Linked DNA regions of Homo sapiens: region 2 is linked to region 1. A link means that fine-mapping ties the variant in region 1 to the expression of a gene that starts in the linked region. Tissue or cell type: monocytes after interferon gamma. Region 1 holds a variant in brackets; the other region holds the start of a gene. All regions are shown on one strand. Distances are between the middles of the regions.

What was found. PIP is the estimated chance that this variant, and not a neighbour inherited with it, causes the effect.
Region 2: it holds the start of BLVRB, and the variant in region 1 is fine-mapped to the expression of BLVRB in monocytes after interferon gamma (Fairfax 2014, PIP 0.95).

What each region holds. Positions count from the first base shown.
Region 1 is chr19:40,433,061-40,441,161 of GRCh38, forward strand. It overlaps SERTAD3 (SERTA domain containing 3), which reads right to left. Exons shown (of 2, transcript NM_203344.3): 2 at 7,784-8,101. Among named protein-coding and RNA genes, the nearest start is that of SERTAD3, 7.2 kb to the right of the region's middle. RefSeq lists enhancers at 180-1,008, 684-763, a silencer at 874-1,163 and a cis regulatory region at 2,242-2,506. The variant CT/C (reference allele first, on the strand shown) is at 4,022.
Region 2 is chr19:40,462,144-40,470,242 of GRCh38, forward strand. It overlaps BLVRB (biliverdin reductase B), which reads right to left and starts at 3,602. Exons shown (of 5, transcript NM_000713.3): 1 at 3,467-3,602. The coding sequence starts at 3,545. It overlaps SPTBN4 (spectrin beta, non-erythrocytic 4), which reads left to right and starts at 4,858. Exons shown (of 36, transcript NM_020971.3): 1 at 4,858-5,162. RefSeq lists an enhancer at 2,676-2,795 and a silencer at 3,817-4,016.

The sequences.
Region 1 (8,101 bases):
CATGAGCCACTGCACCCGGTCTGCTTTTTTCTTTTCCTTTGCAATTACCTGCTCCTAAGGTACTAGATAATTTGTGTGGTTTTTTTGTTTTGTTTTGTTTTGAAAGTAGCCCGGCGTGATGGCAGGCGCCTGTAGTCCCAGCTACTCGGGAGGCTGAGACAGGAGAATTGCTTGAACCCGGGAGACGGAGGTTGCGGTGAGCCGAGACGGTGCCACTGCCATCTCAAAAAACAAAAACAAAAACAAACAAAAAAATTAGCCGGGCGTGCCTGTAGTTCCAGGTACTTGGAAGGCTGAGGTAGGAGAATCACTTGAACCTGGAGTTTGAAGCTGCAGTGAGCTATGATCGCCCCACTGTACTCCAGCCTGGGCGACAGAGAACGACTCTGTCTCAAAAAACAAACAAACCAAAACAAATGAGAGAGGTAGGAAAACTAGAGGAAGAGCATTCCAGGCAGAGGCGAGAGCCAGTGCAAAGGCTCTGAAGTGCTGCCTGTCAGGAGACAAGGCCAGGGCAGCTGGACTGGGAGCTGCCGGGAAGGAGGTCCGAGAAGTGAGGCCTTTTAGCCTACTCTGTGGACCTTTGTTTTTTACTCCGAGCGGGATGAGAAGACCCTGGAAGATGAATCGATGAGAAAAATAATTTCCGTTTCCGTTCAGTGACTTGAAGAAAACAAAATAAGACGGGATAATCGCCTGTAACCAGGGTGGTCCTAGAGAGAGATTCTTCGAGGCGTTGACATTGGAGCTGGGGCCAGAAAATGGAGACGGAGCCAGGAATTCAAAGGCTGGGGGAAGGGAGAAGAGGAGAGGCCGGGCCTGGGGAAATGAAACCATCGGCGAAGCCACCGGGCCCGGCAGGCCTGGAGAGAAGCCTCCGCCTGCTGGGGAGGGAGGCAGGGAGGGGGGTCGGGAGGCGCGGCCCGCCCCGTCCGGCCTCTGGGGAGGGAGGAGGCGCCAGGCCGGCTCCCGGCCGCGGCCGCCTCCCGGGTACCCCGGCCGGCCCAGGGCGGAGGGTGGGCAGCGGGGAGGGACTGGGCCTTCCCGCCACGCCCAGGGCGGGCCGCGGGCCCATCCCCCGCCGCGGAGGAGGGCAGGTTGGGGAACGTGGACACTGCCCTCGGGGACTCGGTTCCTTCTGCAGGGCCAGCCTTTCCACTTCTGTGGCCAGTTCTTTTTAACAAGTGCGGTGTTAAGGAAGGCGCTGGGCCTCTCGGAGCCTCAGTTTTTTCATCTGGAAAGAGGGTGCTCCTCTTACTGGCCTCATCGCGGTGCTAAGGAACTGTGCGATTCCCCTTCCCAGGGTTATCTTCAGGGCAGGCAGAGAGCTGCAGGGAAAGGGGGAGGGCGGGGCACGGTGGCTCACTTTTTAAACAAAAAGTTTGTTTGTTTGTTTCCAGACGAAGTCTTGCTCTGTCGCCCAGGCTGGAGTGCAGTGGCGCCATCTCGGCTCACTGCAACCTTCGCCTCCCGGGTTCAAGCAATTCTCCTGCCTCAGCCTCCCGAGTAGCTGGGATTACAGGCGCCCGCCACCACACCCGGCTAATTTTCAGTAGAGACGGGGTTTCACCATGTTGGCCAGGCTGGTCTCGAACTCCTAACCTCGTGATCCGCCTGCCTCGGCCTCCCAAAGTGCTGGGATTACAGGCATGATCCACCGCGCCTGGCCTGTTTGTTTTTGAGACGGAGTTTCGCTCTTGTCGCCCAGGCTGGAGTGCAGTGGCCCCATCTCAGCTCACTGCAATCTCCACCTCTCCGGTTCAAGCAATTATCCTGCCTCAGCCTCCGGAGTAGCTGGGATTACAGGCAGCTGCCACCTTGCCCAGATAATTTTTGTATTTTTAGTAGAAATGGGGTTTCACTATGTTGGCGAGGCTGGTATTGAATTCCTGACCTCAAGTAATCCGCCTGCCTCAGCCTCCCAAAGTGCTGGGATTGTAGGAGTGAGCCAGGGCGCCCTACCTGTTTTTGTTTTTGAAACAGGGTCTTGCTCTGTAGCCCAGGCTGGAGTGCAGCAGTGGGATTTCCTCTCACTGCAACCTCTGCCCATTATGGGCTCAAGCGATCCTTCTACCTCAGCCTCACTAGTAGCTGGGACTACAGGTGAGCACCACCACACCCAGTTTTTTTGTTTTTTTTGTTTTTTTGGTTTTTTTTTTGAGTAGAGACAGGACCTCAGGGCCTTGCCATGTTACCCCAGGCTGGTCTCAAGCTCCTGGGCTCAAGCAATCTGACTGCCTTGGCCTCCCAAAGTGCTGGGATTACAGGGGTGAGCCAACGTGCCTGGCCCTTCTTCAGGTTTTTACCCAAATGTCACCTTGTCTCAGACGCCCTATCTGGCCATCCTATGTAAATTGCAACACCCTCCTCACTCCTCTGCTCCCCCCTGCCCCCACAGCATTTATCACCACCTGGCTGACTTACACATTTTCACTTCTTTTTTTTTTTTTTTTTTTGAGACAGAGTCTTGCTCTGTCACCCAGGCTGGAGTGCAGTGGTGTGATCTCGGCTCACTGCAACCTCCGCCTCCCGGGTTCAAGTGATTCTCCTGCCTCAGCCTCCTGAGTAGCTGGGACTACAAGTGTGCATCACAATACCCAGCTAATTTTTGTATTTTTAGTAGAGATGGGGTTTTACCATGTTGGCCAGGCTGGTCTCGAACTCCTGACCTCAAATTATCCACCCACCTTGGCCTCCCAAAGTGTTGGGATTACAGGCGTGAGCCCCCACACCCGGCCTTATTTTTCTTTTTATTTACTTAATTATTTTTGAGACATAATTTTACTCTGGTTGCCCAGGCTGGAGTGCAGTGGCCTGATCTCAGTTCACTGCAACCTTCACCTCTCAGGTTCAAGCGATTCTCCTGCCTCAGCCTCTGGAGTAGCTGGGATTACAGGCGCCGGCCACCATGCCCAGCTAATTTTTTTGTATTTTTGGTAGAGAGGGGGTTTCACTGTGTTGGCCAGTCTGCTCTTGAACTCCTGACCTCAGGTGGTCCACTCGCCTTGGCCTCCCAAAGTGCTGGGATTGCAGGTGTGAGCCACAGCGCCCGGCCCTATCTAACTAACTATCTATCTATCTATCTATCTATCTATCTATCTATCTATCTATTTGGAGTGGGAGTCTCACTCTGTCGCTTAGGCTGGAGTGCAGTGCTGTGATCACAGCTCACTGTAACCTCCAACTCCTGGGCTGAAGAAGGGATCCTCCCACCCGAGTCTTCTGAATAGCTGGGACTAGCGTGCCCAGCTAATTTTTTTTTAAAATTGTTTTAGAGATGTGGTCTTGCTATGTTGCCCAAAGTGGTCTTGAATTCTTGGCCTCCAATAATCCTCCTGCCTCAGCCTCCTGAGTTACTGGGCTCATAGTCACGTGCTGCCATGCCTGGCATTATTTTTCATGTGTATTTCACTCTTCCCCCACTGTTAAATTTCATGAGAGCAGGAATTGTCTATTTTATTTATTTTCCTGCTGAAGAGTGCCAGGTCCACAGCAGGCACTCAATAAATCTGAGCCATTATTGGAATCCTTGGCCTGCCTCAGGCTCCCTGACACTTTGCAGTGTGAGGCAGGTATTACTCCAGATCCTTCAGTTTGGAATATGGTGTATATGAGGAACAGCAGGGAATGGTGTGGTGGGAGTATAAGAGTGAGGGTGTGTAGGGGAGATGAGTTCAGAAAGGTGGGAGGGAAAGTTAGTCATTGCTAGGTCTGGAGTTCATTTTTTTTTTTTTTTTTTTGAGACGGAGTCTTGCTCTGTCACCCAGGCTGGAGTGCAGTGGTGCAATCTCGGCTCACTGCAAGCTCCGCCTCCCAGGTTCACGCCATTCTCCTGCCTCAGCCTCCCGAGTAGCTGGGACTACAGGTGCCCGCCACCTCGCCCGGCTAATTTTTTTGTATTTTTAGTAGAGACGGGGTTTCACCGTGTTAGCCAGGATGGTCTCAATCTCCTGACCTCGTGATCTGCCCGCCTCGGCCTCCCAAAGTGCTGGAATTACAGGTGTGAGCCACCGCACCCGGC[CT/C]TTTTTTTTTTTTTTTTTTTTTTTTGAGACAGGACCTCCCTCTGTTGCTCTGTTCCAGATGGAGTGCTGGAGTGCAGTGGTGTTATCTCTGCTCACAGCCTCCATTTCCTGAGCTCGAGCGATCCTCCCACCTCAGCCTCCTGAGTAGGTGGGACTACAAGGGCATGCCATCAGCCCAGCTAATTTTATTTTAGTTTTTTGTAGAGATGGGGTCTCCCTGTGTTGCCCAGGCTGGTCTTGAACTGGACACAAGCGATCTTCCTGCCTCAGCCTCCCAAAATGCTGGGATTACAGGCGTGAACCACTGCACCTGGCCAAGTTTTTCAACAACAAATAATTTTTTTTTTTTTTGAGATGGAGTTTCGCTCTTGTTGCCCAGGCTGGAGTGCAATGGCACGATCTCAGCTCACCACAACCTCCGCCTCCTGGGTTCAAGTGATTCTCCTGCCTCAGCCTCCTGAGTAGCTGGGATTATAGCCATGTGCCACTACGCCTGGCTAATTTTGTATTTTTAGTAGAGACAGGGTTTTTCCATGGTGGTCAGGCTGGTTTCGAACTCCTAGCCTCAGGTGATCCGACCGCCTTGGCCTCCCAAAGTGCTGGGATTATAGGCGTGAGCTACCGTGCCTGACCCTTCAACAACAAATAATTTTGGAGAGTGCAGTTGTGCCAAGCATAGTTCTAGGCACAGACCAACACAACCCTCAGAGTTCCCAGGAGAGTAGGAGGCTACCTATAGATGGGAAATAAGTAACTCGAGATTGGGTAGATGCTACTAAAACAAAATCAGTCCAGGTGCAGTGGCTCATGCCTGTAATCCCAGCACTTTGGGAGGCCGAGGCGGGCGGATCACCTGAGGTCAGGAGTTCAAGACCAGCCTGACCAATATGGAGAAACGTTGTCTCTACTGAAAATACAAAATCAGCTGGGTGTGGTGGCGCATGCCTGTAATCCCAGCTGTTCGAGAGGCTGAGGCAGGAGAATCACTTGAACCCAGGAGGCGGAGGTTGTGGTGAGCCAAGATCGCGTCATTGCACTCCAGCCTGGGCAACAAGAGTAAAACTCCGTGTCAAAAAAAAAAAAAAAAAATTAGCCAGGTGTGGTGGCATGTGCCTGTAATCCCAGCTACTCGGAAGGCTAAGGTAGAAGAATTGCTGGAACTGGGAGGTAGAGGCTGCAGTGAGCCAAGATCATGCCACTACACTCCATTCTAGGAGACAGAGCAAGACTCCATCTCAAAAAAAAAGAAAGAAAGAAAATCAAACAAGTTGTGGTGGGGTGGTGACCCACCTGGATGTGTTGAGCTAGGAAGGGCAAGGAAGACCTCCCTGAGAAGGGGATATTGGGATTGGTGAAGCTATTGGGGAAAATGTCCACTGGGAAAATTTAACAGTTAGGGCAAAGGCCCTGGGGTGAGAAGGAGCTGGGGTCAAGGGAGCCCAGTTGAGTGATGGAGAGAGTGGGAGATGGAACTGAGAAAGTTGTCCGAAGTGAGAATAAGTCAGTCCTTGCAGGTCTTGGTGGAGCTGGCGCTTTATTGAGTGTGTCAAGAAGTCACTGGAGGCTGGGCGTGGTGGCTCATGCCTGTAATCCCAGCACTTTGGGAGGCTGAGATGTGAGGATCGCTTGATTCCAGGAGTTCAAGACCAGCCTGGGCTACATGGCACAACCCCATCTCTACAAAAAATACAAAAATTAGTCAGGTGTGGTCCACGTGCCTGTAGTCCCAGCTACTTGGGAGGCTGAGGCTGAGGTGGGAGAATTGCTTGAGTCCATGAGGTGGAGGTTGCAGTAAGCTGTGATTGTACCACTGCACTCCAGCCTGGGCGACAGAGCCAGAGACCCTGTCTCAAAAGAAAAAAAAAAAAAAAAAGGCACTGAAGGTTTCAAGGAGGAAGACATGATTCAATTGCCATCATATTGGGATGCAGACCTGGTTGCTTACCTTTTATTTTTATTTTTTACAATTCCACAGCAAGTATCACACCTGGTTGCTTTTTTTTTTTTTTTTTTGAGATGGAATCTCGCTCTGTCACTCAGGCTGGAGTGCAGTGGTATGATCTCAGCTCACTGCAACCTGTGCCTCCTGGATTCAAGTGATTCTCCTGCCTCAGCCTCCTGAGTAGCTGGGACCACAGGTGTTTGCCACCATGCCCAGCTAATTTTTTGTATTTTTAGTAGAGACAGGGCTTCGCCATGTTGGCCAGGCTGGTCTCAAACTCCTCACTTCAGGCAATCCTCCCGCCTTGGCCTCCCTAAGTACTGGAATTACAGGCCTGAGCCACCGCGCCTGGCCTGTACCTGGTTGCTTTCTTTAGATCCTCTGGGCCACCTCATTCCTCTCTCTGGATTGGCACCCACCTCTTCAGGTTATCCCTCCACTTTCTGACAATGACCCCTTCAGGTTGAGAAATCTGGCTTTGACCCAGAAACCACAAGCAAAATCCCCATCCTTTCTCCACCCATGGACTATACTCAGGTGTTGTTCCTCCTCGCAGCCCTTCCAGAAAAGTCCCTAATGCTGTGTAGCTCACTTGCTTCATCTCTTCAAAGACCATTGTAAAGGCATAGCCTGTACAGGTATCACATTACCTCTTCCTTCACTTCCTTCACCTCCTTCTCCTCTCCTGTATCTCAGCAGCCTGGGCTCGTACCTCCGAAATAAAGCATCAGCACAGGTCAGGCACAGTGGCTCATGCCTGTAATCCCAGCACTTTGGGAGGCTGAGGCAGGCGGGTCACTTGAGGTTAGGAGTTGGAGACAAGCCTGGCCAACATGGTGAAACTGTCTCTATTTTAAAAAAAATACAAAAATTAGCTGGGCGTGGTGGCAAGCACCTGTAGTCACTGCTATTCGGGAGGCTGAGGCAGGAGAATTGCCTGAACCCGGGAGTGGAGGTTGCAGTGAGCCAAAATCCTGTCATTGCACTCCAGCCTGGGTGACAGAGTGAGACTCCGTCTCAAAAAAAAAAAAAAAAAAAAAGCATTAGCACTATAAATCTAATCTGGGCTCTGCTTCCTAGCCAACTCTCCTAAAGAGGTCTTTTAGTACTGGGGGTCTTTGGGCATTTTCTTGCCCCTCTGGGCTCAGCAGCACATTCAGTGACACATACTCCGTGTGACTCAGTTTCTCCCTCCTGTGCCCACCCACGTGGCTGGTTAGTCTAAGAAGCAACATTTATAATAGTGAAGGACAAGGCTCTGGAGGCCATTTCAGCCTAGCTCCCTGGTCCTTGTTCTTCCTAGCTGTGTGGCTCTGAATTAAGTGACTTGTCCTCTCTAAACTTCTGGTTCCTCCTGTATAAAAAGTGGTAACAGTACTTACTTCTATATGAGGATTAACAGACTTAATTCAAATAAAGTGGCTAGAACAGTGCTCTTAACAAGCACTAATTTTTTTCTGAGGCTGGAGTGCAGTGGTGTGACCATGGCTTACTGCAGCCTCAACCTCCCAGGCTCAGGTGATCCTCCCAACTCAGCCTCCCCAGTAACTGGGACTACAGGCCGCCATGCCTAGCTCCTTTTTGTATTTTTTGTAGAGGCAGTGTTTCGCCACATTTCCCAGGCTGGCCTCAAGCAGATCCTCCCAAAGTGCTAGGATTCCAAGTGGGAGCTAGAGCACTCAGCCAACAAGCACTCAATAAATGTCATGTACAATGATACACCTACCCCAGCTATGGCACGGAAGTGGTGCTGATGTTTAGGAACTTACCAGGTCCCTCCCACTGACCCAGTGAAGTTTAGAAACATTAGACAACATCCCTCCTTCCAAAATACTTTTATTTAAAAAAATTACAAACAATCCAAAAAAAAAAAAAAAAGCCACCACAAACTCTGCCTTTCTTTTAAATAACCCGGCATGGAGCAGTTTGGTTTCCACCCTATTGCACGTGGTCCGGCCTGGTTATGAAATCAGGAGGCTGCTGAGACTGGGGTCCTGCCGAGGAAGTGGGGTTCAGCCTGGAGGGAGGACACCAGCCCCTCCCACCCCCTCAAGGTGCAAGAGGCAGAGCCTGGGTTTCTATAGCAACCTGGCAGCACATCCCTGTCATCCTTCGACAGGCCCAGCTTTCTTTATCT
Region 2 (8,099 bases), 29 kb after region 1:
CATCTCTGAAGTGAGGATCACAGCACCAGCCTCCCCGTGCTATGTGACCACCTTTCATAGGGGAATGACACAAGATCTGTGCTGCCCTCACACATGGGGGAGCAGCAGGGGCTTGCATGGGCCAATATGGGCATTCTTTTTTTTTTTTTTTTTGAGATGAAGTCTCACTCTCTTGCCCAGGCTGGAGTGCAGTGGCGCAATCTCAGCTCACTGCAACCTCCGCCTCCCAGGTTCAAGCGATTCTCCCACCTCAGCCTCCAGAGTAGCTGGGATTATAGGTGTGCACCACAACACCCGGCGAATTTTTTGTATTTTTAGTAGAGATGGGGTTTCACGGTGTTAGCCAGGGTGGTCTCGATCTCCTGACCTTGTGATCCGCCCACCTTGGCCTCCCAAAGTGCTGGGATTACAGGCGTGAGCCATGGTGCCTGGCCTCTTTTTAAGCTTTTTGAAAATCTCAGCCATTGGCCGGGCGTGGTGGCTCACGCCTGTAATCCCAGCACTTTGGGAGGCTGAGGCGGGCGGATCATGAGGTCAGGAGATGGAGACCATCCTGGTTAACATGGTGAAACCCCATCTTTACTAAAAATACAAAAAAAATTAGCTGGGCATGGTGGCAGGCGCCTGTAGTCCCAGCTACTTGGGAGGCTGAAGCAGGAGAATGGCTGAACTCGGGAGGCGGAGCTTGCAGTGAGCTAAGATTGTGCCACTGCACTCCAGCCTGGGCGGCAGAGTGAGACTCTTGTCTCAAAAAAAAAAAAAAAAAAAAAAAAAAATCAGCCATCAATACAAAAAATTTCATTGCCTAACCTGGTGTACACAAACGCATACATATATAATTAAAATGAGTTTCACAAAACTAATACTTAACATGTGATACATTTTGATACTATGTCATCATTTGTTACCCTATATTGTTGATACACGTTGTGACCATATGTTTCAGATCTCATTGTAACTCACAGTTTGAGAAGCATCAGGTTGCAACAACCCTGCAAGGTAGGTATCATTATCCTGTCCACATTGATGGGGAAACTGAGGCAATTTTAGGCAACCGGGCCAGGATCACACAGCTAGTAGGTAGAGAAGGTTGAATTTTTACCTAAGTAAGTCTGATCCAGAGACTGCAAAATTCAATGCTAGTCTAAGTACCTCCTATATAAGATCTCATTTAATTATCCCAAGAGCCCTAGGGCAAGTACTACCAGTTTTGTCATGATCTTACACATATCTAGGTACACAGATGACAAGGCATTTGGTCACAAAGGCTGTAAGCCGCAGAGCTGGTGACTTGAATGTGGGCAGGCTGGCACCAGAGTTCATGCCTGTTAAGACTCTTGGCCCTACAGAACCATTGTGAACTCCAGTTAATCCAAGCCCCTTCTCCCTCCCTCCCTCCCTCCCTCCCTCCTTCCCTCCCTTCTTTCCTTCCCTCCCTCCCTCCCTCCATCCCTCCCTCCTTTTCTTCCTTCCTTCTTTCCTTTCATCTTGCTGTGTCACCCAGGCTGGAGTGCAGTGGTGCAGTGATGCAATCTTAGCTCACTGCAACCTCCCAGGTTCAAGCGATTCTTGTGCCTCAGCCTCCCAAGTACCTGGAATTACAGGCACGTACCACTGTGCCCAGCTAATTTTTTTTTTTTTGAGACAGAGTTTCACTCTTGTCGCCCAGGCTGGAATGCAGTGGCGTAATCTCGGCTCACCACAACCTCTGCCTCCCGGATTCAAGCTATTCTCCTGCCTCAGTCTGCCAAGTAACTGCGATTACAGGCACCAGCCACCATGCCCGGCTAATTTTTCGTATTTTTAGTAGAGACGGGGTTTCACTATATTGGCCAGGCTGGTCTCGAACTCCTGACCTCGTGATCCACCTGCCTCAGCCTCCCAAAGTGCTGAGATTACAGGCGTGAGCCACCGCACCCAGCCTCTTTTTCTTTCTTTTTATGTATTTTTTTAAATTTGAGAGACAGGGTCTCACCCTGTCACCCAGGCTGGAGTGCAGTGGTGCAAACACAGCTCACTGTAGCCTTGAACTCCTGAGCTCAAGCAATCCTCCCACCTGAGCCTTCTGAGTAGCTGGGACTACAGGCATGCATCACCACGCCCAGCTAATTTATTTTTTTTTTGTATTTTTGTAGAGATGGGGTCTTGCTACGTTGCCCAGGCTAGTCTCAAACTCCTGGCCTCAAGCCATCCTCCCGCCTTGGCCTCCCAAAGTGCTGGGATTATAGGCATGATCCACCGTGCCTGGCCAGCCCTTCCCTTTGCTGAGGGGGACAGCAAAGCTGAGAGCTGGGAAGAGATTTTTCAGAGCCACAGCTCTGAAGCTCCCTAGGCTCCAGTTCTTAACCCTCTGAGTGCAGTCCCAGCTATGACCAGCAGGGTGGGCGAGTGGAATTCGGTGGAATTAGTGGATTTCCAGGTGACTCAGCGCCTCTCAACTTCTCTCTCTTACTTCCTTCTCCATTACTCCCGAATAAATGCTTATCAGCAAACTGGTTTTTACTGAGAGGCCCACAGCTCCCCATTCTCCACAAGTCAAGATCCTCACGTGGTCTCCCTGGGGAAGGGGAGAGTTATGGACCTAGAGAAGAACTTTCAGAGTCCCTCCAAGGGAGACAGCAGAGTGGGGTCCTGTTGGCCTCCACCCTTTTGGGGCACGCAGATAGTCAATATCTTCAGCGTCCCCAAGGCCTGCAAGGGTGGGGCCCCATATCTGGAAGTCCCAGGCCCAGCTGGGAGTTGGTCAAGTCTGGGCTGTGGGGGCAGGGAGTGCTGGGGGATGGTTATCCCCTTTTCTGCCCTCTCTCCTGGGGCAACTCCAAATTTTCAGCCCTCATTGACTTTCCCAGGACTGCTGTCCCCAAGTCTTCACTCATGTCTCTCTGTGACTCCTTCCCATTAGGTACTCGCAGCAACCTGACCCCCCAACTTTTTCAGTTTCCAGCCTGGGGACTTGTGGTGGTTAAGAGCATGAGCTGAGTTCAAATCCCAGTCCTGTCAGTTAACAGCTGTGTGATATTGGGCAAGTCACTCTCTGGGTCTCAGTTTTCTCATCTGTCAAGTAGGGTGATACTAGTTCCCACCCCATTTTGAAAGCTCTCATGTGAAGAGACGACAGAGCAAGCTTGGCTTAGTAAATCCTCTCTGGGAGTGCGAACAACCACCACCACAACCACAATAATGACAACCGCATTGCATAAGAGCCCTGGACTTACACACGACTGTGCCAGTGGAGTCCTCCCGGGGCTCCCGGGGCCAATTCCTCTCTGGCTTGGACTCACATAAACTTGGATCTCACATCTTTCCCCATTTCTGCCCCCGTGGCCACTTGCTTTGGCCCCTGAGTCCTCATACACCTGGCTGGGGCGCTCATGGCCCCAATCAGCCTCGGCCCGACCCCATGGTGCCCCTTCCTAAAGTTCTGCCCGTCTGTCCCGTGACATGCCCCGCCCGCCCCGGCTCATGCCTGCTTGCACCGCCTGCGCCAGGGTGGTGAGCCCGGTCTGGCCAGTGGCGCCGAAGATCGCGATCTTCTTGACGGCCATCGTACGGGATCGTGGGGGTGCAAGGCCTCAGAGTCTCGGCACGCGCGGGAACCCACTGGCTGCTGGGCGGTGCTCTCTGCCCTACTCAAGCCAGGAACAACGGGGCGGAGCTGGCTCGAAGGGCCACGCCTCAGACTCTCCGCCCGCGGCTCAGGTCAAGGGGCGGGGCCTAACGCGGATGGGCGGGGCAGGCGTCAGCTTGCATTCGCTCACCGTCCAGCACCGCCCTCTCTGCGCGCCACTTAGACTGGAAGGCGGGGCCACAGAAGGCCACGCCTCCACATAGCAACAAATAGAGTGGACGGAGCCGAGATAACTTGTCACTCAGCGCCCTGCCTCCGCGCTCCACCTCCCGGAGAGGGGCGGGGCCAGGCGAGCCTCACCCACGGCCTCTCGTAGCTCACGCCCCCTCTCCCGGAGCCTGGAGCGGATCTGGGGCGCACTCTAAGCCCCAGGGCCTCCCAGAACCAGCAAGGGGAGAAAGTTAGGAGGACAGAGTGTGTGTGTGCACTTGGATGTAAGACACTGTGTCACGGCGTACCTATGCACTTATATGACCCTGTGTGACTCAGTGACCCGGAGGGCAAGCAGGACTGTGGGTGACACCTTGTGTCATCCTCTGAGTGTGATCCCGTGTTACAGTGTGACTACACGTGCGTGACACCACGTGTGGCAGGCATTGATTCTGTTCTTTTGTGACCTTGTGGTGACACCGTGGGTGACACTGCGTCAGCCTGTACGATAGGGTGTGGGACGTGTGAGGTGTGCTACATGGAAGCGTGAGACTAATTAGACTGTGACAGTGTGTGACACCACATGTCTCGTGTAAGGATGTGTGACACCGGGACCCCATTCGAGTGTGTGGCTGTGGGTGTCTGTGTTGAGCTGCTCATTGTGACCCCCTGTGACTATGATGTGTGAGGTGCGGCGGTGCAGCATGTGCGGGGCGACTGCTATGAAGGTTCGAGTGTGTAGAGTGTGTGACACTGTGGCTGTGAAGCTGTGCGTGATGTGTGGGCCTATGACACTGTTTGTGACTGCCGGGGAGTGTGCGGCTGTGTGTGACAGGTGCATTTGTGTGTGACGCCGCGTGGGCGGTGGTTACCCTATTGGATTTGTGTGGTGGTGGGTGACACCGTTCCAGTGTGGACGCCGCGTGTGACGGCGTGAGGGTGTGACCCCGTGAGACCCCACAGGAGGGAGTGACGGCGCGCAAGCGCGTGGATGCGGGGGTGAGTTTGTGCGCCGAGGCCCCCGCGAGTATGGCAGCGTGGCGAGCGTGACCCCGTGGGAGTGTGCAGCGCGTGACGCCGCCGTGCCCTCGCGAGTGCAGCCGTGCACCCCACGCCGCGGCCGGGTGTGACTGCGCGTGGGCCTCGGGCGGCGGGGCGCGGGGACCGCGGGCGGGAGGGGGTCCCGGGGGCGCGCTGAGCGCGGCGGCGGCGCGAGAGAGGGAGGCGCGGCGGCGCATGCGGATCTGGCTGAGCCGCGGGCCGGCGGGGCCGAGCTGAGCCGGGCTGGGCCGGGCCGGGCCGGGCCGGGCAGCGGACGCCGACAGGGAGGGCGGTCGGTCGCGGCGAGCAGCGGAGACAGCGACGCTGGCGGCCGCGGGCCCAGGTGAGCTGCTAGGGGGGCCGACAGCCCCTCCCCCAAGTATGTCCCCACCTGGCGAGCATCCCTCCTCCGCGCGCACGGGGCATGGCTGGAGCCCCGGGTCTCCCCGGCTGGAGGGAGGCAAAGGGTCGAGGGCAGGACGAGCCCACAACCCCCCCACCCGGTCTAGCTTCCGCGCCACGCGTGGGTCTTACCCCCAGGCCTTGTCCTTCCCAGGCCCCCTCCTTGGGCGCAGTGTCTGGACCGCAGGGAGAGAGGCGCGGCCTGGGAAGGGTTAAAGCCTCTGATGCCACCGCAGCCCAGCGCCCCACCAGCCTTTGCGGGGGGGGGGGGGTGTTGGGGGGAGGCTCGCAGGACACCCCTTCCCGGCTTCCCTATTACCTGCTCCCTTCCTTCCCATTCAATCGCGTTATGGCCAGAGCTGATCCTCGGCCTGGCCAGAGGGCTAACAGGAGTGCTAAGGGCCTCCCCATCTCTAAGTGTCTTCCACTGAAGAAAACAGCTGTAACCACCGTTTAACAGGGAGGGAAACTGAGGCACAGAAAGGCCAAGTTAAAGATACTCGGTTAAAGATACAGCAAGAATAAAGCGGAACTTGAACTCATTTCTGTCTGACTCCAGAAGAGGCAAATCGATTTGCTGAGATGTGTGAGGAAAAGATGAAGAATAATAGCAAGGAACATGTATCAAGGGCTTGCAGTGTACCAGATACCATGATCCCTGCATTAATAACTTACCTCTTCAAACACCGCTAAGAAACGGGTACGATTATCATTACTTTTTTTTTTTTTTGAGACGGAGTTTCACTCTTGTCACCCAAGTTGGAGTGTAATGGCGCGATCTTGGCTCACTGCAACCTCTGCCTCCCGACTTCAAGCAGTTCTCCTGCCTCAGCCTCCCAAGTAGCTGGGATTACGGGCATGAGCTACCATGCCTGGCTAATTTTGAATTTTTAGTAGACATGGGGTTTCACTATGTTGGTAAGGCTGGTCTCCAACTCTTGACCTCAGGTGACCCACCCACCTCCTTGGCCTCTCAAAGTGCTGGGATTATAGGCGTGAGCCACCGCCTGGCCTACCCTTTTGTGTGTGTGTGACAGAGTTTCATTCTGTCATTCAGGCTGGAGTGCAGTGAGTCAATCTCAGCTCACTGCAACCTCCATCCCCCAGGTTCAAGCGATTCTCCTGCCTCAGCCTCCCAAGTAACTGGGACTACAGACACGTGCCACCACGCCTGGCTAATTTTTGTATTTTTTTTAGTAAAGACCGGGTTTTGCCATGTTGGCCAGGCCGGTCTCGAATTCCTGGCCTCAAGTGATCCACCTACCTTGACCTCCCAAAGTGCTGAGATTATAAGCATGAGCCACCGTGCCGGGCCATCATTACTATTTTGCAGATGAACAAACTAAGGCCCAAAGAGTGGAAGTATTTCAGCCAAGGTCACACAGGTGGTAGGTAGCTGTGTGCTCACTTTCACTTTTCCATGGAAGGAGGGAAGAACAAAAATGGATTTGGGACTGGGCACAGTGGCTCACATGTGTAACCCCAGCACTTTGGGAAGTTGAAGTGGGCAAATAGCTTGAGCCCAGATGTTTGAGACCAGCCTGAGCAACATAGTGAGACCCCCTCTCTACAAAAAATACAAAAATTACCTGGTCATGGTGGAGCTTGCCTCTAGTCCCATCTACTCAGGAGGCTGAGGTGGGAGGATCGCGTGAGCACAAGAGTTGGAGGCTACAGGGAGCTATGATTGTGTCACTGCACTCTAGCCTGGGTGATAGAGCAATACCTTGTCTCAGAAAAAAAAAAAAGATTTCAATGTGTCCCCCTAAGGGACAATTTCCACTCTACTCACTCTACTGACCAAGACTTAGACCCTGCCTTCCTAGAATTCAGTGGGTTGGCAATTGTCTGGGTCTTTTGAGGACATTGATCTCCCAACTTCCTCCTTTGTTAGTCTTTTTTTTTTCCTTTTTCTTTTGAGAAGGAGTCTTACTCTGTCGCCCAGGCTAGAGTTTAGTGGCACAATCTCGGCTCACTACAACCTTCGCCTCCCGGTTTCAAGCAATTCTCCTGCCTCAGCCTCCTGAGTAGCTGGGATTACAGGCACCTGCAACCTTGCCCACCTAATTTTTGTGTTTTTAGTAGAGATGGGGTTTCACCATGTTGGCCAGGCTGGTCTTGAACTCCTGACCTCGTGATCCACCCGCCTCAGACTCCCAAAGTGCTAGGATTACAGGTGTGAGCCACCACGCCCAGCCGTTAGTCTTAGAATCAGGCCTGGGGGCCCAGAAGGTAAAGGAGATACATCTAATGTCACTTAACCCTTTAAATTTCTTCTCTTTTTTTTTGTTTTTTTTGAGATGGAGTCTCACTCTCTCACCCAGGCTAGAGTGCAGTGGTGCGATCTCGGCTCACTGCGACCTCCGCCTCCTGGGTTCAAGCAATTCTCCTGTCTCAGCCTCCTGAGTAGCTGGGATTACAGGCATGTACCACCATACCCGGCTAGTTTTTATATTTTTAGTAGAGGCGGGGTTTCACCATGTTGGCCAGGCTGGTCTGGAACTCCTGACCTCAGGTGATTCACCCACCTTGGCCTCCCAAAGTGCTGGGATTACAGGTGTGAGCCACTGTGCCCGGCCAATTTCTTCTTTTTTTAAATAATTTTTTGTTTTCTATTTTTTTATTTTCATTTAATTTAATTTTATTTTTTCTGAGATGGGGTCTCACTCTGTCGCCCAGGCTGGAGTGCAGTGGCACGATCTCAGCTCACTGCAACCTCTGTCTCCCAGGTTCAAGCGATTCTACTGTCTCAGTCTCCTGAGTAGCTGGGATTATAGGTGCACAATGCCATGCCTGGCTAATTTCTTGTATTTTAGTAGAGATGGAGTTTCACCAAGTTGCCCAGACTGGTCTCGAACCCCTGAGCTCAGGCAATCCA